Regions from separate parts of the Homo sapiens genome. Here region 2 is linked to region 1. The links come from fine-mapping of genetic effects on gene expression. A gene starts in region 1. The other region holds a variant in brackets. All regions are shown on one strand. Distances are between the middles of the regions.

The links.
Region 2: its variant is fine-mapped to the expression of PADI2 in whole blood (INTERVAL, PIP 0.92).

Annotation. Positions count from the first base shown.
Region 1 is chr1:17,112,880-17,125,139 of GRCh38, reverse strand. PADI2 (peptidyl arginine deiminase 2) reads left to right here and starts at 5,689. Exons shown (of 16, transcript NM_007365.3): 1 at 5,689-5,860. The coding sequence starts at 5,769. It overlaps LOC124903861 (a long non-coding RNA gene), which reads right to left. Exons shown (of 3, transcript XR_007065506.1): 2 at 11,555-11,714; 3 at 11,295-11,469. RefSeq lists silencers at 2,964-3,147, 5,670-5,879 and an enhancer at 4,564-5,098.
Region 2 is chr1:17,092,577-17,104,836 of GRCh38, reverse strand. It overlaps PADI2 (peptidyl arginine deiminase 2), which reads left to right. Exons shown (of 16, transcript NM_007365.3): 3 at 1,778-1,850; 4 at 8,867-8,928; 5 at 11,153-11,270. Among named protein-coding and RNA genes, the nearest start is that of PADI2, 21 kb to the left of the region's middle. The variant A/G (reference allele first, on the strand shown) is at 7,030.

The DNA.
Region 1 (12,260 bases):
AGCTGGGAGTACAGGGGGTGCATCACCATGCCTGGCTAATTTTTAAATTTTTTTGTAGAGACAGGGTCTTGCTATGTTGCCCAGGCTCATCTCAAACTCCTGAATGTTAGTGATCCTCCCTCCTCAGCCTCCCAAAGTGTTGGGATTACAGGCTTGAGCCACCACATCCAGCTAATAATACATTTGCATTTAATGAAATACATTCACCATATTATCATTCCAACATGGAGTCAATTATTTTTAAAATTACCATCTTTTTCTCCTTGTAACTCCTTGAAATCTGTATTTTACACCAGGGGTCCCCAACCCCCAGGCTATGGACCATTACCAGTCTGTGGTCTGTTGGGAACCAGGCACACCGCAGGAGGTGAGCATTGGGCTAGCAAGGGAAGTTTTGTCTTTAGATTCCCATAGGAGCACAAATGCTATTGTGAACTGCGCAGGTGAGAGATCTAGGCTGTGAGCTCCTGATGAGAATCTAATGCCTGATGACCTGTCACTGTCTCCCATCACCCCCAGATGGGACCATCTAGTTGCAGGAAAACAAGCTCAGGGCCCCCACTGATTCTACATTACGGTGAATTGTAAAATTGTTTCCTTATGTATTACAATGTGATGATAGAAATAAAGTGCACAAGAAATGTAATGCGCTTGAATCATCCCGAAACCATCCCCACCCCCATCCATGGAAAGCCTGTCTTCCACAAAACAGGTCCCTGGTGCCAAAAAGGTTGGGGACCACTGTTTTACACCTACAGCATGTGTCAGTTCAGATTAGCCACATAAACCTTGTCTGGCAGTGGCTACATGTTGGAAAGCATGGGTCTAGGACCTCCCAGGCTTACTCTGGCCCCCTGGCAGCCCCTCAGACAACTGGCTTATTACATCTTCTCCAGAATTCACCTTTCTAGCTTTGCTTCACTGACTAAGGGTAGAACCCTGGCCCGGACAAGTCATCTTACCCTTGGATGTATAAAATAAGGGTAAGAAAAATACTTACTTCTGGGGTTGTAGCAAGGATTCAATGGGATAACATACACACAGTGCTTAGCGCAGGTGCCTGGCAGGGAATAAATGCTCCATAAATGGTGACCTAATGAATGAAAGCCTTAGCCCATCTTTCAGCATGGTGATGGTTAATTTTCTGTGTCGATTTGGCCAGGCTATGGCACCCCATCATCCAGTCAAACATCAGTCTGGATGTTGCTGTGAAGATATTTTTCAGATGTGATCAACGTTTAAATCAGTAGACTTTGAGTAAAGTAGATTGCACTCCAAAATGTGGGTGGGCCTCATCCAATCAGTTGAAGGCCTTAACAACAAAGACTGAGGTTTCCCAAAGAGGAGGCAATTCAGCCTCCAGAATGCAACATAGAAACCGTGCTGTTTCCAACCTGTAGATTTCAGACTCAAGACCGCAACATCAATTCTTCTCCCATTTCTGACTGGCCAGCTCTACAAATTTCAGGCTTGTCAGCCCCCACAACCATGTGAGCCAATTTCTTAAAATAAATCTCTCTCTCTGCATATATAAATGTACCCCCGAGTGGGGTACAGCCACAGCAGCACGCAGAAGAGACATGACTTCCTCATTCTGAACTCACGCAGTATTAGAACAATGGAGCACCCCAGCCCTTCCCCGCCTCTGAGCACGATGTCTCTCAGGACCGAGAGCTGAGGCAGAGGCTGAATCAACGCCCCCATCCCAGAGACTCTTCTCAAGGGAGTGAGACCAAAGGGTGGGCTTTGCCAGGGGAAAGGGAATGTGACGGGGCCAGGCAGGGCCAGGGTTATGGGGATCTGCTCTTGAGGGTATGACTGCAGGTCCCCATGGTGCAGAGTCAGGGGTTGGGGCGATCCCTGGCCACAGAAGGATTGCTTTGGGGATCCATGGCCCAGACCCCGACCTCTTCCTTTCTCTGGTCTCCTGCCAGAATTCCTGTCAAATTTAGCTGCCTACAGCAGCCAGAGTGATTTTCCTAAAGTGTACATCGTGCCGTTGACACCTTCCAAAGTCCTTCCCAGGCTTCCCCCATGACCCCATAAAGATAAAGCCCCAAAGCCTTTTCCACGACTTACAATGCTCTGTGTGACCTGGCCACAGCCAGCCCAGCCTCTCACATTGTGGAAGCTTTGAAGTATGTTATCAAACAGCATGTAGTCAGAAGCCCATGTTTACAAAAACTTAAAATAACTATATACGCATAGGAAATAACTACCGTCTACTGGAACTTGGGTCTGTGCCAGGCCACGATGTGCAGTACCTTACTGGATATCATCTTGTTATTCCTTGTTCCTTATAACAATTCCTAGTATCTCCTTTATAGAAGAAGAAACTGAGGCCCAGAGAGGCCCCCAGCTAGTGAGGGGCAGAGCCAGACTTGACCCCAGGTCCACCAAGACCAAAGTCCATGCTCTTCACTGCAGGCTGGTTGGTGCCTCTGTGCAGATGGAAGATAATAATAGCTCTCACCTCACAGGGCTGTCGTGAGGATTAAACAGGCTGAGATGTGTGTGTGAATGGGCTCTGAACAGCTCCTGGCATGGCGCAAGGGCTCAGGAAGTGTGCTGCCCCACAGCAGCCTGTGGGCAGCCCGGCCAGATCATACTCATAGATTCAGACTGATCTCTGGTACTAGGGTCATGGGTGATCATATTTTTTTTAACTTTTCCACAATGACCAGGTAATACTTGTGCATTTTTTTCTTTCTTTTTAAATTATTGTATGTATAGTGCTCTCAGTAAGCTGTCTGTTTCCTCAAAGCAGGCTTGTCGAAGTTTGAGTGGCCTCCCTGGTTCCCCCAAGGCCTGGCCCGGAGACCCCACACCCAGTGGAGGAACCTAACAGAAAACAGCTCAGAAGAGCCCCTCTTAGCCCAGGCACCCTGCCCACAGGCTTGGCAGGGGCGCTTGCTGGAGGGGTGGGTGCGGGTCTGTGCCAGGAACTGGCCTAAGCTAAGTCCCCAAAAGACACCGTGAGATGCTTTGTGGCTCTTCCGGATCCCAGGGGAGAGGTGGGAGCAGCCGTGATGCATGCGACCTCCGGCCCTGAATCCACCAACAGCTGTGACTACTTCAGCTATTTTAAACCTCTGGGCACCAGGAAACTCCTGTCTCATCAACCAGGCTCTGGGCCCAACATGATGGCCTGAGCCCGGGCAGGAGTCCTGAGTGTGGGTGGCCAGGTCTGAATTGGGTTTTTAAGGGGAGGGGGCTTCATTTCTTGAGCCTTGTGCCAGGCTCTGTGCTAGTATTTTCTGCACCTTGTTGTCTCGTTTAATACCGTCCTTACACCGTGCTGAGGGATCAGTTACTTCACAGAGGCAGAAAATGGGGCTCCGAATGGCAGGGTACCTGGCCCAAGGCGGCACAAAAGCAGAGCTGGGCCTAGAACTGCGACTTCCTTATCTACAAAGCATGGACAGCATTCTGCCCCTGCCCTCACTCGGCCTTGCCCCCTGCCTCCACCCCAGTGGCCCTGCAAGCTCCTCCCTCTGCCACTCTTAGGAGCTCTGCAACCCAGAGTCAATTCCCCCACCTCCTCACAGCTCACTTTCTTCATCTGTAAAGTGGCGGAGTTACTGGGAGGGTTCAGTGATCTAACTCTAATACATGAAAAGAGCCGCTTGGAACAGTGCCTGACCCACAGAAAGAAAGCAGTAAGTGCCCGCTCTTACTCCAGCTCCCCTGGGTATTGCGGTCTGATGTTATCACTATCTTGCCCAGTGTCCTGTTATGAGCTGCCCGGGGTCTCCGTCAGTGGGGGGTACAGTGTCCTCCCCCACTCTGGCCCCAGTCTCCCCATGAGTCAAATGAAAGTTAGAGCCCCAGGAAGGTGAGAACCCTGGTGGGTGCCCGTTATCTGTCACACAGTAAGGGCTCCAAAGTCACTCGTGGCAGAGGGGTGCCCAGACACGAGCTCACCTCTGGGGGCGCCTCGAAGTCTCTCCAAGCTACACAAGTTTTGTCCCAGTTTGGCAGGTGGCCACCCGAGAGATTCCTCCTGATTGGAGGATGTGCTCAGCCGGGTGCCTGGAGTTCATCAGAAGTTACTGGCCTCGGCCGGGCGCTGTGGCTCACGCCTGTAATCCTAGCACTTTGGGAGGCCGAGGCAGGTAGATCACCTGAGATCAGGAGTTCAAAACCAGCCTGGCCAACATGGAGAAACCCCGTCTCTACTAAAAATACAAAATTAGCTGGGTGTGGTGGTGCCTGCCTGTAATCCCAGCTACTTGGGAGGCTGAGGCAGGAGAATCAATTAAACCTGGGAGGCGGAGGTTGCAATGAGCTGAGATGGCGCCATTGTACTCCAGCCTGGGTAACAAGAGGAAAACTCTGTCTCAAAAAAAAAAAAAAAAAACAGTTACTGGCCTCTCCCTGGGTCTGTGAGCTGTGCCTTTGGGGGACAAATGACCTCCTGGCTAAAACTCGGGCCTTCCCTCTTCCCCACTCACATTCCTCCCAAATCCCTGCCACTCAGAAGCAGCTGGGCTCTTCACCACCTCCTAATTTGGGCCGCCTCAGGGAGAAGGTTGGAGTCCAAGGGCTGGGTATATCAGCACTGGGCACTTGTGGGCCTCACCCCTCTTGTCTGGGGGCACCCGTTCCTGGAGCTCCATCTTCCATCAGCTCTAACTCCTTCCCAAACACACATCCCCTCCGCCCCACTCCTTCCCTCCCACGGCCTCTGCCCACCCCCCCTCAGTTTCTGTCCTCACCTACCAAAGACCACTTCCTCACACAGGGCTGATGTATGTGTCTGAACAGCACTCCCACTGGGTCCCAGGGGAAGGGCTGGGACATGGGAGGGGCTGGCCGAGGCCCACACTGATTGTCATCCTACATCTCAGCCTCTGTGAGACACACGATGACCTCTGGGTGGCACCCCCCTTCCCTTGGTGGCCCAGGCCAGAACCGGGGCCCTAATCCTTACCCCTCTCCTCTCCCTCCACCCACACATCCTATCAGTCACCAGGTGCCACCAAAATCCCAGTCCCTAAGCAGTGGCCGGGTCAGTCCCCACCTCTCCAGCTCTGGCCACAGCCAGGGGCTTCCTTGCCCCTCCCCAGCCCAGAATGACCCATTTCACGAGCACACCCGACCACGGCTCGCGGAGACAACCACTCCAGGCTCCCATCTCCCACCCTCCAATGCCTTGGCTTGGCGTCCTGGTCTCCCTCAGCTGCCGGGTTCCCCATCCCCACCGCTTCCCGTTTTCTCTATGGTGAGGTTCATCTGACTGTTGGGGGATGGGGGTACCGGGCTGCACCCGGCTTTGCACAGGCAGCTCCCTCTCCTCGCCTTTAATTTGCAAACGCCTCCTTTAAGAAGGTTCCAGGATCGTCTTCTCTGGGAAGGCTTCCTGGCCCCCAGGCTGGGTTAGGGCACCCTCTTTGTGTTCCCACATTTGCATTTTCAGCCCCACTGGGCTGGGGCGTCCGGAGGGGAGCTAGGGCCCTCCAACACCTGGGCGCCCACCGAAGGTTTGTCGAATGAAAGAATGACAATCCAACCATGGAAAGCACAAAACTGGTCCCTGATGACTTCGCCACGACCTCAGCGGGGCGGGACGAGTTAGGGGCGGGACCACGCTTGACGGACAGGCCCGCAGCCCACTGCGAGAGGACTGGGGCGGGCCGCCCCGCCCACCGGCCGCTGGATAAGGCTGCGCGCGGGGCCGTGGGGCGCAGGCTGCTGGAGAAGGCGCACCTGCTGCAGGTGCTCCCGGCCGCCCCGGACCAGCGAGCGCGGGCACTGCGGCGGGGAGGATGCTGCGCGAGCGGACCGTGCGGCTGCAGTACGGGAGCCGCGTGGAGGCGGTGTACGTGCTGGGCACCTACCTCTGGACCGATGTCTACAGGTGAGCCGGCCCACCGTGATGCCCGGGCCGAGATCTCGAGCCCAGAAATCCTGAGACGCGCTCAGACTCGGGGACGTGGACAGCCTTTGTCCAGCCCGAGTTGTCCCTCATCCCGAGCCCCCGAGCCCAGAAATCCTAAGAATCTCATCCAGAAACCTGACAACCCCCGAACCTTGTGTCCACCTTCCAGAAACCCTGAGACTCTCCCAGACCCCCTAACACAGCCTCAGCCCCAGCTCCCTCACAGACCCTCCCTTTCACCCGTAACCCTCCGTCTGGCCCTCTCCAGTTCTCCTCCCGGGGGACCTCACACCCCTTCAGCTTCCCTGCCGTCCTCTCCCCTTTCACTTCCCCTCCGCACCTCACTTCCCCTCGGACCCACCTCAACCCAGCCCCTCTCCTGCTTCCCACTCCCAGTTCAGCGGAGCTTCCGCGGAGACTTGCCGGGGACTGGGGCAGGACCCGAAGGGAGCTGCCCTGAGGCTGAATCCGGCCCTGGAGGTTACTCAGGCTCCGATTTCGCCCTGTGGGGGCTGCTGGTGGTTGCTTGTCCCCAGGCACTGGCCCTGAGCTCCGTGTCCCCAGATACCTTCCCCTGACTTCATTCTGAGACCACAGAGGGACAATATTCTACCCAGCTGACGACGGGGACTTGGGGTGTATAGCGGGGTACTTTGTTGGAAAAGGATCCTGATTCAGAGTTCTGCTCCCTCCCCTTCTCTCTGTCCAAGAACTTGGTAGAGTGCGGGATGTCCGAGACAGCTGAAGGTAGGGTAGGGCCCTACCACTCCCCCCGCAATCCCAGAAAGCAGCCAAGTCCAATGATCTGTCTCCCTGAGTAATGGGACGGGGCCTTGGAAAGGTGTGGCTGGTGTGAATGAAAGGGTGGGGTTATGCTGGGGTTTGATCTGCCCCCTCTATTCCAAGCATTTAAAACCTCCCCATTGCTAGGGTTGGAGGGGTCAGTGCTGGGGGCAGGGAGCATGCAGGACTCTGAGGTGGGACCCTGTGCTGACACCGGATGAGTCCCCTATCCTCTCTGCCTCAAGCTGAACTCACACGGAGGCACCATCGTGGTTTATGGCTCTCAAATCATCCTGACACCTGGAGCACCCTGCCTCTCCCAGGCCCCCACCAACCCATCATGTGTCTCCCCACACAGCCCTGGCAGCCCTCCCACCTGCCCAACCAGTCTCCTGCCACCGCTGCAGAGGCACTGGCCACGCTGATACCAACAAGCCCCAGGACTAGGGACCCACTCCATGCCTCTGTCCCTGGCCTCAACCTCTGCCTTCCCCTGGGCCTGGGCTTCAGTTGTCCCCCATGTAAACCTCAGAGGTGGACTGGGTGGTCTCTGAGAACAAGAACACAGCAGTGGAGGGTGGTCCAGGCTCTGGTGGGGTGCAAGAGCTCCCCTGCCTTCCCCACCCCCAGCCCTGAACTGGGCACCGCTAGGGAGTGGGCGCGGAGCCAGAGTGCTCAGGTCTCTAAGCCTCAGCTGTCACCATACCCACCTGTTTATTTGCTGGGGCATGGTTGGTGCCGCCTGAAAAGCTGGCATGATCCTCCCAGTCGGGGGTGGGGAGCAAAGGAGGGTTCCTGCTCAGGCGCCCTGCTATCGCTCTATCCTGGCAAAGAGAGGCCCAGCTGGGGTAGGGGCACAGAGTGGGGCAGATATGGACTCAGCCTCCCTCTAGCAGGGGGCAGCAGTGTGACGATTCCCCTTGTCCTGTCTCAACGACCACAAAGACCCTAACCCCCACCGGCACTTAAGGTTCTCCACCACCACAGAGAGGGGCAGTGCGCTCTAGACCAGTACTGTCCAGAAAAGTCCAGTTTGAACCACAACAAAACCACAATTGCATTTTAAATCTTCTAGTAGTCCACACTTTTTTAAAGTTAAAACAACAGGCATAATTTTAATAATATATTTTGTTTAACCCAATATTTTAGAATATTATCATTTCAACATGCAATCAATATAAAAATTATTAAGGAAATGGTTTACCTTCCTTTTTTCATGCTAAGTCTTTGTAATCCAGTGCACATTTTACACTTCAGCACATCTCAGCGTAGATTGAGTGCATCTCAGGTGCTCACTGGCCACCGTGAGCCAGTGACACCGGGACAGAACAGGTCTAGTGCAGAGTTTCTCAATCTCGCACTATTGCATTTTGGGCTCGATATTTCTTTGTTGTAGCGGGATGTTTAGTGGCATCCCTGACCTCTGTCCCCTAGATGCCAGTAGCAACCCCCAAATTGTGACAACCAAAAATGTTGCCAGACAGTGCCAGCAGTCCCCTGGCAGGGGGCAAAATCACAGCCAGCTGAGACTCACTGGTCCAGTGGAAGGAAGCCTCTTCCAGGACTAAGGAGCTTGAGTTGTTACTGCTATTGTGACTCGAGTTACCTGTAGTAATGAGAGCAACTGCCAGTATTGATAACAGGAGGAGGTATTAGTGGGCACTTAGGAACTGAACCCACCACCTCCTTTCTTCCTCACCATAGACCCTGGAGGGTTCATTGATCATCCCATTTTACAGATGAGGAAGGTAAGGCTCAGAGAGATGAAGCCATTTGTCCAGAGTCACACAGGACTCAGGTCCAGGTCTGTTTGACTCAGAACTCATGCTCTTATACCCCACTCTGTCCTATGTGACCCTAAAACCAGCGGGTTGAACTGGACGGCCCTCTCAGCCTGTGTCTCTTCCACCCTGGCCACGAGCCCACTGTCCCCAGAGACTTCACCAACTCCCATTTGGCCCTCCACTCTTCCCTGAGTCCTTTGCTGCCCGGACACAGGTCCTGGCTCAAGACCCCAAGTGATGCCCCCAGAGCCTCCAAGTAGACCCCAAGGAACAAGGCCCGGGGGTGCTGGGCCCAGTTAATTACGGAGTGGCATCCTGACCCTCACTCCTTCTGAGTCGCAAAGGTGAGCGAAACGGCCTCAGCACCCACTCCCTTTCCCAAGGGCTCTGGACTCCCTTTCCTGTGATGCTGGCACACAGGATCCCCTCCAGACACATAGCAGGGGCCTCCCCAGCCTCATTCCTCAATAGACCTTGTGGTCCTGGCAGGCACTGCCCTACCAGCTTCCATCCACGGGCTGTGTGACCTTGAGCAAATCGCTTCACTTCTCTGAGTCTCCACTGACCCAAATGGGGGTCGATCAGAGAACAGGAGGAAGGATCTTGTATTCAATAGAAGATGTACACTCAGGGTCACAGTGATGAACAATTGACCACTATGCTGCCCTATGAGGGGTCATCCAGGCCACCATGGGCAGGGGTGCTCTGGGCCACCCACGCTCTCCCAGCAAAACTGGCCCCCCTGGGGATGGATGCCTTGACCTAGCCTCATTCTGACTGCTAGTCTCCAGCAAGCAATGAATAGATACATAGAAAGAAGGAAGTAGGGTGTTTGTTAGAAATTGTACTTTGTGATTGTTGTTAAAGATACTCGCTGTTTCCTTCTGCTCTTCCCAAATATACTCATCTTAGTCTTGGCACAGGTACACCTGGCCCACACAATCTCCTCCGGTGGTCCCTTTAGCCGACAGTCACTTCTTCAGTGGGGCTGGCCTGGGTCCCCATCTGATTTGGGCTTGAAGTTGGAAAGAGAGCACAGAGGGAGTCCCTAGGTTGGTTCCATCCTGGCCACCCACCTCTTGTGAGCCCTGGAGGCATGGACACTCCCAGAGTCTGGAAGGATTATTAGGGACAGGGCAGCCTCGGAGTAAAGTAGGTAGCAGGGTGGTCACTCTCTGCCCACAAGCTGGGCCTTGGGAATGGCTTCTTCTGTTCCTCCCTCGGCTTATGCCTCTGTCAGTGAGAGTTCTCGAGAAGGCAGGGCTCTTCTTTTCCTCCCTGGTGTACAGGAGCCAGGATCCAGATCCTGAGGTCTGCAGGAGCTTCAGGACACTGGAATGATCTTAACATTGTCCCTTTGCCTGTGCAGAGGTTCCAGCTGCGTCTGTGAGGTGGAGGTGGGAGGATTCCCTTCCCTGGGATTCCCCAAGGCAGAGGCTGACCAGCCATTGTCCCAGTAGAAGACAGAAAGAAGATAAATGTCAGCTAGTAATATCAAGTAAATAGTAATAATTTGCCCATAACTCGCTGGCAGAAGATAGGAAGAAGGTATCAGGCAGGCGCTCCTAGACTTTGGCACAAACTCACTCCCAGACTTTCTGTCTCTTGGTTGGTGTGAAGGCTAGAGATGTATTTGCTTTTTTAAAAAGTGTCATTAGGACAAAGGCCAGGAGGGTCTGAGATCCAGTTTTCCATGATGGGGGCCTGGGGTGCTATGGGCTCCCCTCCCCATAGTGTGCCAGGCCCTACCTCACTGATCTCCTCTTCTAGCAATTCCTCAGCACACACTCCATTCCGGCCACGCTGGCTTTGTGGATGCTGTTAGCCCTTGGCTGTGCCAAGCTCATTCCCACCTCAGGGCCTTTGCAGTTGCTGTTCCCTCTGCCTGGAACACCATCCCCCAGATCCCCACAAGCCTGACTTTCATCAGTCAAGTCTCAGCTCCAATGTCACCTCCTCCAGGAAGCTTTCTTTGACTACCCCATGTCGTGGTGCCCTACCCTGAGTCCCGAGAACTCTGTTTCATCACATTTTTTTCTTTGCACAACTTCTCATCGTTTCTTAATGTTACTAGTTGACATTTATTGAACACTTATTTTGTGCAGGCTTCTCAACACTTTGCATGCTCATCTCACGGACATGTAATAATTTACGTATTTAAACCTTGCAACAACTTTATGAGTTAGGTACAATTATTGTCCCCTTTTCGCAGCTGGGGAAACTGAAGGAAGGAGTGTTTGTCCAGGATGGCACAGCCAGTAAACTGTGGGGTGCAGAGCCCAGGCCCCTGCCTGCTCTGCCAGGCTGCCCTCCTGGTACTTATGTTTCAGGCGTGCCTCCTCCTTGTTTGTGATCCTCCCTGGAGTCAATGAAGGGCTCCCTGAATGAATGAATGAATGAACGAATGAATGAATGAATGTGGCCTGTGATGCCTGTGGACTGGCCTGTCATGGGGCTGAGCTCCCCACCCCCAGCCTCAAGGGACAGGCACCGTTGGATGGGCCTGTGGAAGGTCAAGGGCATGTGGCCAAGCTTGGCCCGAGCAGCGCTTGCTCCTGAGAGAATGACGGTGGGAGGAATTCAGGCCAGGTCAGGTGGCCCATAAATTAGAACAGCACCCAGAGCCCTCAACCCCAAACGGGATGCCTTGCCAGGAATTGCTCCAGGGCTCTGGTTTCAGGCTAGTTTCCTGGGGTTGGGAGTGTTCTAAGGAGAACCAGGCTCACAGTCCCTGCATAGTTGGGGTCCCTGAGACCTTCCCTCATTGACTGCAGGGCCCTGAGTTGGGATGGGAGCACAGTGGCAGGGGCTCACCCCAGTGCCCACCCCTAGCTGGCCAGACATACCTGCTGCACTTTGGAGGAGGCAGCTTTTGAAGGCAGCTCTTTCCTGCCCAGCCACGCCAGACCTTGCACCCAGAGGCTTTGATGGGCCCAGGCTTGCTTCTCTCTGTCATTGACCCAAGAGCCCAGGACAGGAAGCCAGTCTTTAGTGTCCCTTCTCTGTGTCTCAGACTCCCACCTGTGAAATAAGTAAGGGGCTCTCATTTGGTCCTCTTCAGAGCCAGGCCTGATCCTCCCCTCTGCCCCACACCAGGCACACCTACCTGGGGGATCTCAGGAAAGACTCCAGACTTTGAATTCTCTCCCAGGGAGGGGACAGCCAGGCCCAGGTCTCAGAGAGCCTGAGTTCCCCTCACACTCGGCCATGACTGTCCCTGAGATTTGAAGCGGGTGCTTGCCCTCTAGGGGCCTCAATGTGCTCATCTGTAAAATGAAATCACAGTGGTATGGGCCTCATGGGGTTATCGAAAGAATGGGCTGAGGTCATGTGGGCCATGGGCTTGGTACAGTGCCTGAGACATAATGAATACTCAGTTCCCTGGTGGTCTAGTGGTTAGAAAAATAATAATAATAATAATAATAATAATAATAATAATAGTAAATACTCAGTAAGTTGTTATGTATTAGTATTGAGTTTATTTTGAAAACAAGTAATAATGAGACCTGATCCCTCTCCTCAAAGACTTCATAGCACTTATGGGAAAGAAATCTAGAACTGAATTTATTAAGTGTTGTTTGAGACACCAATAAATGGAGGGAGAGATATATTCTGGCTGATGAGATCAGGGATGACTTCCTGGAAGAGGTGGCAACTGAGCTGGGTCTTGAAGGATGGACTGGGGTTCAGAGTGAGACCAAGAACATGCCACTCAGGGGCAGAGATAACTGGCAGGGAAGTTGGGGCACACAGAGACAGAAAGGGCACAGCTTCAGAGGCCTGGAGTATAAGGCTGGAGGGTCAATGAGCTC
Region 2 (12,260 bases), 20 kb after region 1:
TGCCAGGATAGAGGCAGGGTGGACCAGCCCTGTCCCATAGAAACTGCACGTGGGCCATGTGTCATTTTCAGTTCTGCAGTAACCACATTGAAAAGGCAAAAAGAGGCCGGGCGCAGTAGCTCAAGCCTGTAATCCCAGCACTTTGGGAGGCCGAGGCGGGTGGATCACAAGGTCAGGAGATCGAGACCATCCTGGCTAACACGGTGAAACCCTGTCTCTACTAAAAATACAAAAGATTAGCCAGGCATGGGGCGGGTGCCTGTAGACCCAGCTACTTGGGAGGCTGAGGCAGGAGAATGGCGTGAACCCGGGAGGCGGAGCTTGCAGTGAGCCGAGATCGCACCACTGCACTCCAGCCTGGGCGACAGAGCGAGACTCCGTCTCAAAAAAAAAAAAAAAAAAAAAGAAAAGGCAAAAAGAAACAGGTGAAATTAATTGTCTTAATATCTATTACTTAACCCTATCTATCAAAATATTATCATTTTGACATGCTATCAATATAAAAAATATTAACAAAATTGTTTGTTTTTTGTTTGTTTGTTTGTTTGAGACGGAGTCTCCCTCTGTCACCCAGGCTGGAGTGCAGTGATGCGATCTCGGCTCACTGCAAGCTCCACCTCCCAGGTTCACACCATTCTCCTGCCTCAGCCTCCAGAGTAGCTGGGACTACAGACGCCTGCCCTATGCCTAGCTAATTTTTTTTTTTTTTTGTATTTTTAGTAGAGATGGGGTTTCACCGTGTTAGCCAGGATGCTGTCGATCTCCTGACCTTGTGATCCGCCCACCTTGGCCTCCCAAAGTGCTGGGATTACAGGCGTGAGCCACCGCGGCCGGCCTGTTTGTTTGTTTTTAAGAGACAGGATCTCACTCTGACTCCCAGGCTGGAGTGCAGTGGTGCGATCATAGCTCACTGCAACCTCAAGCTACTGGGTTCAAGCAGTCCTCCTGCCCCAGCCTCCCGAGTAGCTGGGACTCCAGGCACCTGCCATCGTGCCCAGCTAATTTTTTTTTTTTTTTTTTTTAGAGACAGGTCTTACTATATTGCCCAGGCTGGTAGTTTATATTCTTTTTCCATACCAAATTTAAAATTAGTGTGAGTTTTACACCTTATAACACACCTCCGTTCAGAATAGCCGCATTTCCAGTGCTCGGTAGCCATGTGGATGTTGTGGGGTTAGACCATGGAACGATGGCTTCGTAAAGGATGAAAATTATAGACAGCTGAGTGATAGAAAGTTTAGAGGCTCAGAACCATAGAATCATTGGAGCTTACAGTCACAAGTGTCCTTGGTCTATCTGTAAAATGGGGTGCTGAACATCCATGGGTGATTTGCCTAAGTGGTGAGGCTGAGACCAGAACTGTCTCCTTTCTGGGTTCCGTAATTATGAACTTTACCATGTGCCCCATCACAGTGATGGCATTGAACATGGTCCAAAGAAAATAGCCTCAGCCCTGTCCCCTCAGTGGGCACTAGACGTGCAACATGGCAGATATGGGGGACCCCAGGCAGCAGAATGCACACAGTGGCACAGGAAGGCAGACAGCATCCTAACTGCCCTCTCAGCCAGCAGGAGGGGAGTCCACAGTCTAGTTCAGTTACCTGAGGGAAACCGCCCACCAACCCAGGAGTTCTTCCTGGAGGAGAGGGTTCTGATGTTTGGAGAGGGTTGGCTTGACAAGCTGTGAGGGACAGCAGTTGCTTCAGGTTTTCCTGCTTGTGATCTGTGATCTCTGCTCTCTTTTCTCTCTACTCCAATGTGCCCCCTCCCCACCAAGGTCACCGTCAACTACTATGACGAGGAAGGGAGCATTCCCATCGACCAGGCGGGGCTCTTCCTCACAGCCATTGGTGAGTTGGCATGGTTGCCGTCTCAGTGCCTTCATCACCCAGGGCCTGGCACTGTTGTCCTTCTCTGGGGCACTTAGGCGGTTCTCAGTGCGGCTGACCTGGCACTTGGAGCTTCTTCTGAATGGCACAGGCCTGGGGAGGGATGTCACATGTGCCCCACCCCGGTCCTTCCATACTGGGGTGGGGGCTTATCTGCAGGAAGAGGCACTCCCTGATCCATCAGCAACCCCCCCCCAAGTGTCAAGGTCCCCTTCCCAGGCTCTGTGGCCCTAAAAGAGAAAAAGGTGAAGTGTGTTTCCCCCTGCCTCTCCCCTGCAGCCTGGAGAAGAGTGTCCCTCTCATGGTGAGGGGAATGGCCACAGTCTATAAAACTAGCAGCTGTTCTTGACAATCCCAGCTGCCCCCTGGTTCTCCCCAGATTCAGCCCCGAGGGTGCAGAGATGCAGCCTCCAGGTCCTTAACTCACCTAGTCCAAGTCCTTCATTTGATCCACAGGATGGTGAGGCCCAGAGAGGTTAGGGAATTTATTCAACATCACACAGCAACTGGGTGGCAAGTTGAGTCCAGAACCCAGAATTATCCCTGTCTCAGGTTCTCTCCATTGCATCACACTGCCCTGCGCTGGGTGCCAGGCCTGCATGCCAGGGAGGTGGAGCCTAGCCTGGCTCTACAGGACCCTTGGCTGTGATCATCTGAATTTTCCATCACTCCACCCCCTGAAACTGAGGCATTACTTTTATGCTATTTTATTTCATTTTTTAATCATAGAATGTTAAAGCCAAGAGGACATTTCAGAGGGTCATTTTGTTCATCCAACCTTGGTTTAACATTGACAGAGTTGCCGCATGGCAGAGGAAGGGAACTACCAGTTATTGAGAGTCAACTGCATGCTGAGTGCTTTCAAAATAATGATGCGGCCTGCTTATTGCAGGCCTACTGTGTGTCTAGAGCTGCACTGGGCACTTTGATGAGGAGGAGGAGGGGGAGAATGGTAAACACCTGATATTAATTGAGCACCTATGGTGTGCCAGGCTCCAGTACTCAATGTTTTACCGTCACGATTTCAATCTCTTCTTCCAACTATTCCAAGGATAGATATTATTATTATCATCCTCATTTTATAGATGAGAAAATCAAGGCTCAGAAAAGGTAAAACAAATACTTGCCTGCAGCTACATCTCCAGAAAATGGTTGGTGAGATGCCAATCATTCCAGTTATCCCACATTCTCAGGGGGGGTCTCAGAATCTCCCCAAGATACAACTAACTCCCGAGCCAGCCCCTTCCTCTCTAGCCCTGTGCTCTCAGCTGCTTAAACAGGCTTAGCAGCAGGGCCCTTCTCATTCTTGGCTAATTCCCAAATGGGCTTGGTTGCTGGTCCCCCTGTCCCTCTTTCTGTCCCAAGGAGGTGCCCAGCCCTGGGGTAGGGAACCTCGGGATGACCTTGGTGAGGGTGGCAGATGATCAACAAAGACTCCTGGGTTGTACTGAGCCCTGGCACGTGTGTGAACCTTGCATGCACACAGCATCCAGGCAGTCTCAGATGACAGTCCCTGAGGAAACCTAATCCCACCAAGATAGGGACACCTGAGGACGGGGGCAGGAAGGGCAGGGGCCTGACACCTGTCAAATGAGGATGATCCCAGAAGGCTGACTGCACCATTAACAAGACTTCCACCAAAGCAAGACAGACTTAGGATAGATGGCAAAATAAGCGTCTATAAGGAGGCAGGACTGGACTTTTCCTCCTCACTAGGAGATGACAAAGCTGTGCTTAGAGGAAGCCCGCTCAGAGTTGGCGGCATGGCTGAGTCCCAAAAGATGCCACATGTGCCCACGACAAGTGACCAAGTTCATCCTTCCGAGGTCTGTTAATAATTATTTATTTAACTGCCACAAGTTCCAGATATTTAGATTCCATGGGCCAATCAAATGTCCCCTGCCCCCACCCCCCAAAAAATGAGAACACTAACAACTTTGATGCTTGGCAAAAAAAAGAAAAAAAAATACATCAATAAAACAATTTGTGGCCAGGCGCGGTGTCTCACGCCTGTAATCCCAACACTTTGGGAGGCCAAGGTGGGCAGATCATGAGGTCAGGAGTTTGAGACCAGCCTGGCCAATGTGGCGAAACCACATCTCTACTAAAAATACAAAAATTAACTGGGCGTGGTGGCACGCACCTGTAGTCCCAGCTACTCAGGAGGCTGAGGCAGGAGAATTGCTTGAACCCAAGAGGTGGAGGTTGCAGTGAGCCAAGATGGTGCCACTGCCCTCCAGCCTGGGCGACAGAGCGAGACTTTGTCTCAAAAAAAAAAAAAAAAAAATTTGCTATCAACTATCACTATCATTTTAACTCTTAAAAAATAGGCAAGGCATAATCTCAGAATAAAAGACAGTCATGGCCGGGCACAGTGGCTCACGCCTGTAATCCCAGCACTTTGGGAGGCCGAGGTGGGCGGATCACCTGAGGTCAGGAGTTCAAGACCAGCCTGGCCAACATGGTGAAACCCTGTCTCTACTAAAAATATAAAAACTAGCCGGGCATGGTGGTGGACGCCTGTAATCCCAGCTACTCAGGAGGCTGAGGCAGGAGAATTGCTTGAAACCAGGAGACAGAGGTTGCAGTGAGCTGACACAGTGCCACTGCACTCCAGCCTCGGCGACAGAATGAGACTCTGTCTCAAAAATAACACAAAACAAAACAAAAAACAGAATAAGAGACAGTCATTCAATTGCAAAAAGAAACTAACACCATTGAACTTCTGTTTCCTGTTCCAACAGAGACCCTGGTGAAAATCTGGTTTCCCTTGGGGACCACTGTTCTCTCTGTCCCTTCTAGGTTTTCTCTTTTCTCGAGCATCTGCCCCAGGAGCCCTTGAGCCCGTCATCCTGAGTAATCAATCACTCAGGGGCAGCGCCTCAGAGGCAAGCCCCCCCCCAACCCCAATATCTTGAGAGGCTGGGACTGTCCCCTGGGCACAAAAATGTATCTGAATCTCTCTCACCCTGGTCCTATCCTGAGTCCACATTGAGCAGAAAGAGCCTTGGCTTCTGGGTAGACAGAAGTAAGCCTAAGATCTTTCTCTGTCCCCTCCAGCCAGCTTGTGACAAGTCACATCATCCCCCTGAGCCTTGGCTTCCTCATCTATAAAATGCGCTTCACAGAGCAGCCTTGCATGGTGTTTACAAGGATTCAGTGGGATGTTGTGTGCGAAGGGCCCGGCACAGAGTGGGTGCTTAGTCAATGCTCCGCCTGCTTTTCTCTCTTGCTCTTGAGGTGGCCGCATTTTCTCTCTGCCTGGGTGAAGTTAAAGAAATGTATGGTCTCTCCTTCTTCCTTCTGGGATTTGGGAGCAAATTCATGATTCCTTTGGCCAGATCAGGCTCTGGGTCTTTGTCCCAATCCCGCCAAGGACTTGCTGTGTGACCTTAACAAGTAACCACCCCCACTAGGACTCACTTTTTACAAACTATAAAATAAGGGGTTTGAGCTAATTAATCCCTAAGGACCTTCAAGACCCTGGTTAGGGTTGATTTGCAAAGACTTCCATTTTTTGGGAGGGATGGGGGAGAGCAAGAGGTGAGGTGTGGGGAGGGAGGAAGAATCCCACCCTATTTGAGGTCCTGGCAGTGGAAGGAGTACACATATGCGGGCCCCAGAAAATTTTAACATCAACCTAAGGGGCTTGATCCTATGCCTTCTCCCCAGAGGCTGGGATACTTGCCCTGATTGGCTGTGGGGGAGGGTGTCCTTCCTTCCCATAACATCTCAAGCTGCTTAGTAAGGCAAGAAGGCCAGGCACCCTGCCACTCTCTGGCGACCCTCCAAAATGCTTGTGCCTCTCGGTCAGAGCTGAGGCTTCAGTGTCTTCATTCTCAGGGCAGACTGCCTTGAACCCAATCCTAGGGACATTTCCCGTCAATCTGCCCCACACCCAGGAGCCACCTGACGCCTTGGGGCTATTCTGGGGAACTGAGGTGGGATCCAGAGCCTCTGGGAAATGTCGTCTGGAGCCTGGAGGCCCTGAAGCAGAGCTCCTCTCCCTCCTCCCCCTCGGGAAGGCAGAGCCATCCCAAGAGGCAATGCTCTGGGCAGGTCACACCAGCCCTGTTCTCTGCCCCTACCCGCAGCATCCCACTGGAATCTAGTTAAATCAGACATTGGGGGAAGCCTTGCAGGGGCGAAGTCCCATGGGCATGACTACAGGGTGGGCGGTCTCTGAGGGTGAAGGGGCCAGAAGGTCATTTCAGTGGATTATGGGGACAGGTCATGGGTCATCAGAGAGGAGTTATGAAGCCCTGTGAGAGGCTGGGAGGACGATAAGGGAGCCACACTGTGAAATGCCCACATTTCGTAACAGGAAGGTAACGAAACCTGTCTGAATTCAGTAAATCAGGAAATCGCAATAAGCATGAGAGAGGTTGCCTTAGGCAGCTGAGAAGAAGGGCTGGACAAGGAACTGCTGTCTTTCTTTAGAAACAGTGTGTTACTATTTTATTTGATTTTGTTTGTACTATGTCCAAATATTACATGAATAAAATGTTTCCATTTAAGAATTCATAATGAAATGAAGCAGTATAGACTGCACCATAATTTCTCTCCTAGCCCACGGCCCCACTGCTTTAATGGACTCGCCACAAGGAGTCCCAATGTAATGTCACCTTACGGCCTAGAGACGAAGGCCGCAGGGCTACCAAGGTGGGGAAATGGGCACTTCCTCTGGGAATGACCTTCAAGGGAGCAAGTCTTGTGTCTTTGACTTTGGGCTGGGCTTTTGGAAACAGCTTGCAGGGAGGTCAGCCTGGGTTCATTGCAGGGAACAGCAGAGAGCAGGCAGCCGGAGTCCGAGGCCCTGCTGAGAGCCTGGCTCTGCGTTCTGGGAACTTCGGTGGTCACTTCCCTGCTGCGGGCCTGGGTTTCCTCATCTGTATCGTTAGGGGGTGGGGGTGGTCACGCCTCCCCTGGAGTGGCCGAGAGAACACACCTTGGAAAACGCTGTGCAGCTGCAGAGCAGGATGCCCGCAGGGGAGAAATTTTTACCTTGAAAAGGACAGAGTGGCTCCCTAAAGAGGCTGGACCTGCGGCTCCTTCCGAGGGAGGAGTTTCAGGAAGCCAGCTCCCTGAAAGGCAGCATTCAGTGGACGTGACCGGCTGGAAAGTTCACAAAGGTCCAGGA[A/G]CCAAAACCAGTATTATTCCTGCCCCTGCACCCCAGGCTCTTAGCCCCTGGTGGTACCGCCTTCCCTTCTTTCCCCTGGGGTCCTTATCCTGCACCAGCCTCCCAGATTACCAGCCCGATTTGCTGACAAGTGGCTTCTCTGAACCTGGGTTTGCTGCCCTGTGAAACGAGAGCAATGCTATTCATCTCATGGGACTGTGGACGCCTTGAGAGCAGGTGCTGTGCCTCCATTGCCCGTTGCCTGGTACAGCTCCCGGAGCAGTAGCTCCTCAGCAGTGAAATGTGGAGTGAATGCGATCGGAGGGAGGAGGTTACAAATTATGCCTTACAGCACCTAACTCACCGCACAGCTGCAGAGGCTGGGACACACAAGACTGCCTCTCTCAAGGGCCAGGCGCCCTTGCAGCCTCCTTCTAGACTGGAAAAGTCACATGCAGGTCTAGGGTATGCAGGCTATAGGCAAAGGGAGGACCTGAATGTGATCTCTGGACTCTGGGCTTGGTTGGCCCAGAGAAGGGTGACATCAGTGCACTTCGTGTGCCAGGACCCTCCTTTCCATGCCCTCCAGGCAGAGGGTGTGCCTGCCACGGGGACTAACCAGGAATGCATTCATTACCACCCAGCGCCCACCAGGTCCAAGTCATGCTCAGCGTGAGATGAGCCCACTCGGGCAGCTCTGGGGACCTGGAACGGGCACATGTCATGTGTGTGACACTCCCAACACCTTCCCAACCACATCCCTACTCGACCTCATCCGTCTCCAACTCAAGGCAATTTCGCCTCCCAAGGGACATTTGACAATATCTGGAGACATTTTTGGCTGTCACGACTGGGAGGGATGTTACTGGCATCTGGTAGGTAGAAGCCAGGAGTGCTGTTAAACATCCTACAATGCACAGGCTGCCCCCACACAAAGAGTTATTTGGCTCAAAAATGTCAGTAGTGCCTTCCATTGCAGCTAATGCATCTGCTGTAACCAGGAAGGGCCCCATGTTACAAGTGAGGAAACTGGGGCTCAGAGAGGTCCTCTAACCTGCCCAAAGTCACACAGCTTATAAGCAGAGAACCAGGGTCTAAACCCCACCTTGTCTGATACTAAACCTTTTCACTTCCCTACAGTCTCCACAAAGCCTGTCTCCATGGCAGGCCTAGGGATGCTGAGGGTCCCTTCACCAAGAGAAGGGATAAGTGGGGGCCTGGCCCTGGATCCTCCATCTAGACTCACAGGTGACCTCAGACCAAGAGGGGTTAGAGACAGCTTCCCACCCACAGTAAAACCCTCAGTCCTTGAAGGTGGGATCTAGCCCACTGGAAGTTCTGGGAGAGAAAGAGACACGCACACCCAGGTGCACATGTGCACACCTATGCGCATGCCCGGGTAGACTGAGAAAGGCAGTTTGGGAATGCTATCCCTGTTAAGTTTTCAGAATATGAACTATGAATCAGACCAACCGCACTGTGTACCCCAGTTCTGCTAGCGTCCCTATGTGATCTTGGGCATGCGACTTCACCTCTGAACTGAGGCATCCAGATCTGTGCAGCGAGGATCATTCCCCAACCCCCAGCCAGAACAATGAAGTGGTAGGAGGTCCCAGACCTCCCCGATGGCAGCTCTTGCAGCCGTAAGCTACGAGGTCCACACGGTGTCTGCTGACGGTCTCCAGTGGGTAGTGGGATGTTGAGGCAGGGGGTTGCATAAGATGACTTCAGCGAGGTCCTCTCTTTCCCGTGACCAAATGAATGGCTGAGACGCACCCAAATCCCACAGGTCTTCCTCTTGCCCCTGCCCTGCCCTGCCTGGCAGGCTCAGCAACTCACCCATGTCTCTTCTCCCCAGAGATCTCCCTGGATGTGGACGCAGACCGGGATGGTGTGGTGGAGAAGAACAACCCAAAGAAGGTACCTAGCTTTCAGGGCAGGCACCACCCTGAACCCAGGGCTTCCGAGGGCACAGCCCCAGATCCCGCAGGCAATTCCCATTTCACAGCTCAGGAGACTAAAGCCCAAGACAGGCTCCCAGACACACAGCATACCAATGATGGAACCCACAGAGGAGCTCAGGCATCTCCTAGAGACGGCAACAGAGCAGGCTCCTGAGTCTCAGTTTCTCCATCCCATGATGGGGACGCCCAATTCATGGAACTGCTGGGAAGGATAAATGTGCCCGCTACAGAGGAAGCACTGTGAAGGCATTTGCTCTTATTATTTTGCCTGTTCTTTTAAGACTAGGGAGGTGGGGGAGACAGACCCTCAGGACAGAGGGTCGCATTCATCATTCTCAGTTCCAGGCGTGGTATTATCTCTGCTGGTGCATGCACGGCCCCTCTCCTCTTTCTATTTATTCTTGCATTCATTCACCATTCATTCATTTGTTCCCTCGTTCATTTACTTATTTTCTTTTATCTTGCATTCCCCACTCCCATTCTGCTCCCCCACAGAGGACCATTTTGCTGGGTTTAATGTGTCTCTTTCTGCTCTGGTGACTCTCAGGAGGCATGTGGTGTGGTTGGTGTGCATGTATTTTTAATTTGTGCAGACGGCATGGTGTTCTCCATCACATTCTGTTTTGTACTTTTCCCTCAACCTAGTTTTTAGGCTCCATCAGTCTTGCTCTGTGTACATTCAGGCTGTTGCTTCTAACTGCTTTCCATTTTCTGCCCTTCTGTATTATCTCAATTTTTGCCATGGGCATATGTGACTTTTATAATAACACTCTGAAGCCTAGAGTAAAGTATACATAGAGGGGTACTTACGAAGTAAAATAAACACAGCCTGATGAGAAGCCTGGGTCCTAGCAGCCTGCTACCCTGACTCTCTGCAGGTCAGGAGAGGGTTCTCAGCCATGTGGGGAAGTCCCTTCTTCTAGGATCGTGAGCAAGGCTTGCCTGAGACCAGGGCCAGCCCTGCACACTCATTCTCTGAGTCTATGGCCAAGCCATATGAGAATGAACTCCACAGAGGCCTCTGAAACCCAGCAGCCCCAGGGCGACAGCTTCCAACCTCCCCCAAGGGGCTGGGCAGTCTTGGGAAAGTCACACGATCCCCATGAGCCTGAACTTGGCCAGAATTTTTAAATCTGGGCCGGTGAAGTTTTCACATTTTCTTCACTCATCCCATAAATATTTGCTGAGCATCTTTTATGTTCCAGGAGCGGGTCAGGCCCAGGGGACACAGAAAGAACAAGAGAAACACAGCCCTGGCCTTAAGGAGCCCATGGTCCACATTAAATATGGAGTGTTTCGGATAGCTGTGTCATCACAGTTGTCCTAAGTCCTCCCAAAAAGGATGTGTACAGGGCCAGGTGTGGACCCGGGGAAGCTGCTCTGTCCTAGAGAATCAGAAAGGCCTCCAGGAAGAAGAGACAGTCATGCTGTAACCGAGGAAGGGTAGAGTGGGCCAGGTGGAAAGGGGCAGGACAGGAGCAGAGGGACTGGCATAGGCAAAGGCCTGGGAGCTTGAGTCTTTTGGGAGCAGAAAGGCGCCGGGATGGGTGGGGCAGAGTGAGCGAGGGGCAAGGCGGAGGAGATGAGACAGAGAGGAAGGCAAGTTTCACCAGGCCTTCCAAGCCACAGCAAGGAATCAGGGCTTCATGCCAACTCAACTGGGAGCCCCTGACCTGGCTTAAAGCAGGGAAGCAACACAATCTGGCCCGAGTTTGTTCTAGTAGTGCTATGGCTGCAGTGTAGAAAGTGGAGCACCATGCAGGTCCCATTCGGAGCACTAGGAGCGTGTCTGGAAACAGCTGGGTGGCATCCATCCAGGCGTCTCCTCCTGAGCTCCCCTAGGGACCTAGGGACCCATGGTAGAATGTCTGTCTGCTCATTTCTCTGGCCAGCCTCCACCTCCCTGCCTCCACCCACACCAGACACCAGCTGCACCAGACAGGAGGCCCATAAATGCCTCAGTCAGCCTTCCTGTCTCTGTGCCTCTATTGAACTTGCCTTTGATGCCCACATTCATCCTCTGTGGACATCAGTCTTGAGATTCACATTTGCCAGGTCACAGCTGCCCCAGTGGGTGGCGGCTACTCTTTACCCTCATCCTGGGGCTATCTCTCCAGTGTCCCATGGGGTCTATACAAGCATAGAGAAGAGGGCACTGACCTTTCTTCCTGCCACTGTAGGCATCCTGGACCTGGGGCCCCGAGGGCCAGGGGGCCATCCTGCTGGTGAACTGTGACCGAGAGACACCCTGGTTGCCCAAGGAGGACTGCCGTGATGAGAAGGTCTACAGCAAGGAAGGTGCCAGCAGGCCCTGCACTTGGGGGGCAGGATGAGAGGAGTGAAAAGATTCATGCCCAGTCCTGGGCTGGGCTGAGGGTGAGGCAGGTGTGGACTCAGGCCTCCTGGGGATGGTGGACACAAATTCCCACTCTTGCTTAAAGCCAAAGGCAAAACCATAGGAAATAGACAAGGGCCGGGCGTGGTGGCTCACACCTGTAATCCTAGCATTTTGGGAGGCCAAGGCAGGCAGATCATGAGGTGAGGAGTTCAAGACCAGCCTAACCAATATGGTGAAACCCCATCTCTACTAAAAATACAAAAATTGGCTGAGCGTGGTGGCATGCACCTGTAATCCCAACTACTCAGGAGGCTGAGGCAGGAGAATCACTTGAACCCAGGAGGCAGAGATTGCAGTGAGCCAAGATCATGCCACTGCACTCCAGCCTGGGCAACAGAGCAAGACTCTGTCTCAAGAAAAAAAAAGAAGAAGAAGAAGAAGAAGAATAAAAAGAAAATAGACCAGAAGGAAATTCCCAAAAGGTTAATCATCTCTAGTGTTGGAAATGACAACTGGTTTTTATTCTGTTTTATGCTTTGCTTTTTTCTTTTTCTTTTTTTTTCTTTTTTTTTTTTTTTGAGACAAGGCCTTGTTCTATTGCCCAAGCTGGAGTGCAGTGGCATGATCATAGCTCACTACAGCCTCAACCCCCTGGGTTCAAGCCATCCTCCTGCCTCAGCCTCCTGAGTAGCCAGGATTACAGGCACATGCCACCATGCGTGGCTAATTTTTTTTATTTTTGTAAAGATGGGGTCTTGCTATGTTGCTCAGGCTGGTGTTTGTCTCCTGGCCTTAAGTGATCCACCCACCTCAACCTCCCAAAGCACTGGGATTACAGGTGTGAGCCACAGCACCCAGCCTCTTTATGCTTTTCTATAGTTTCCATAATACACATCCATGGGGATTTTTTCCTGATTATCAAAGTAAAAGGCATTGGGAAGCTGAGGCTC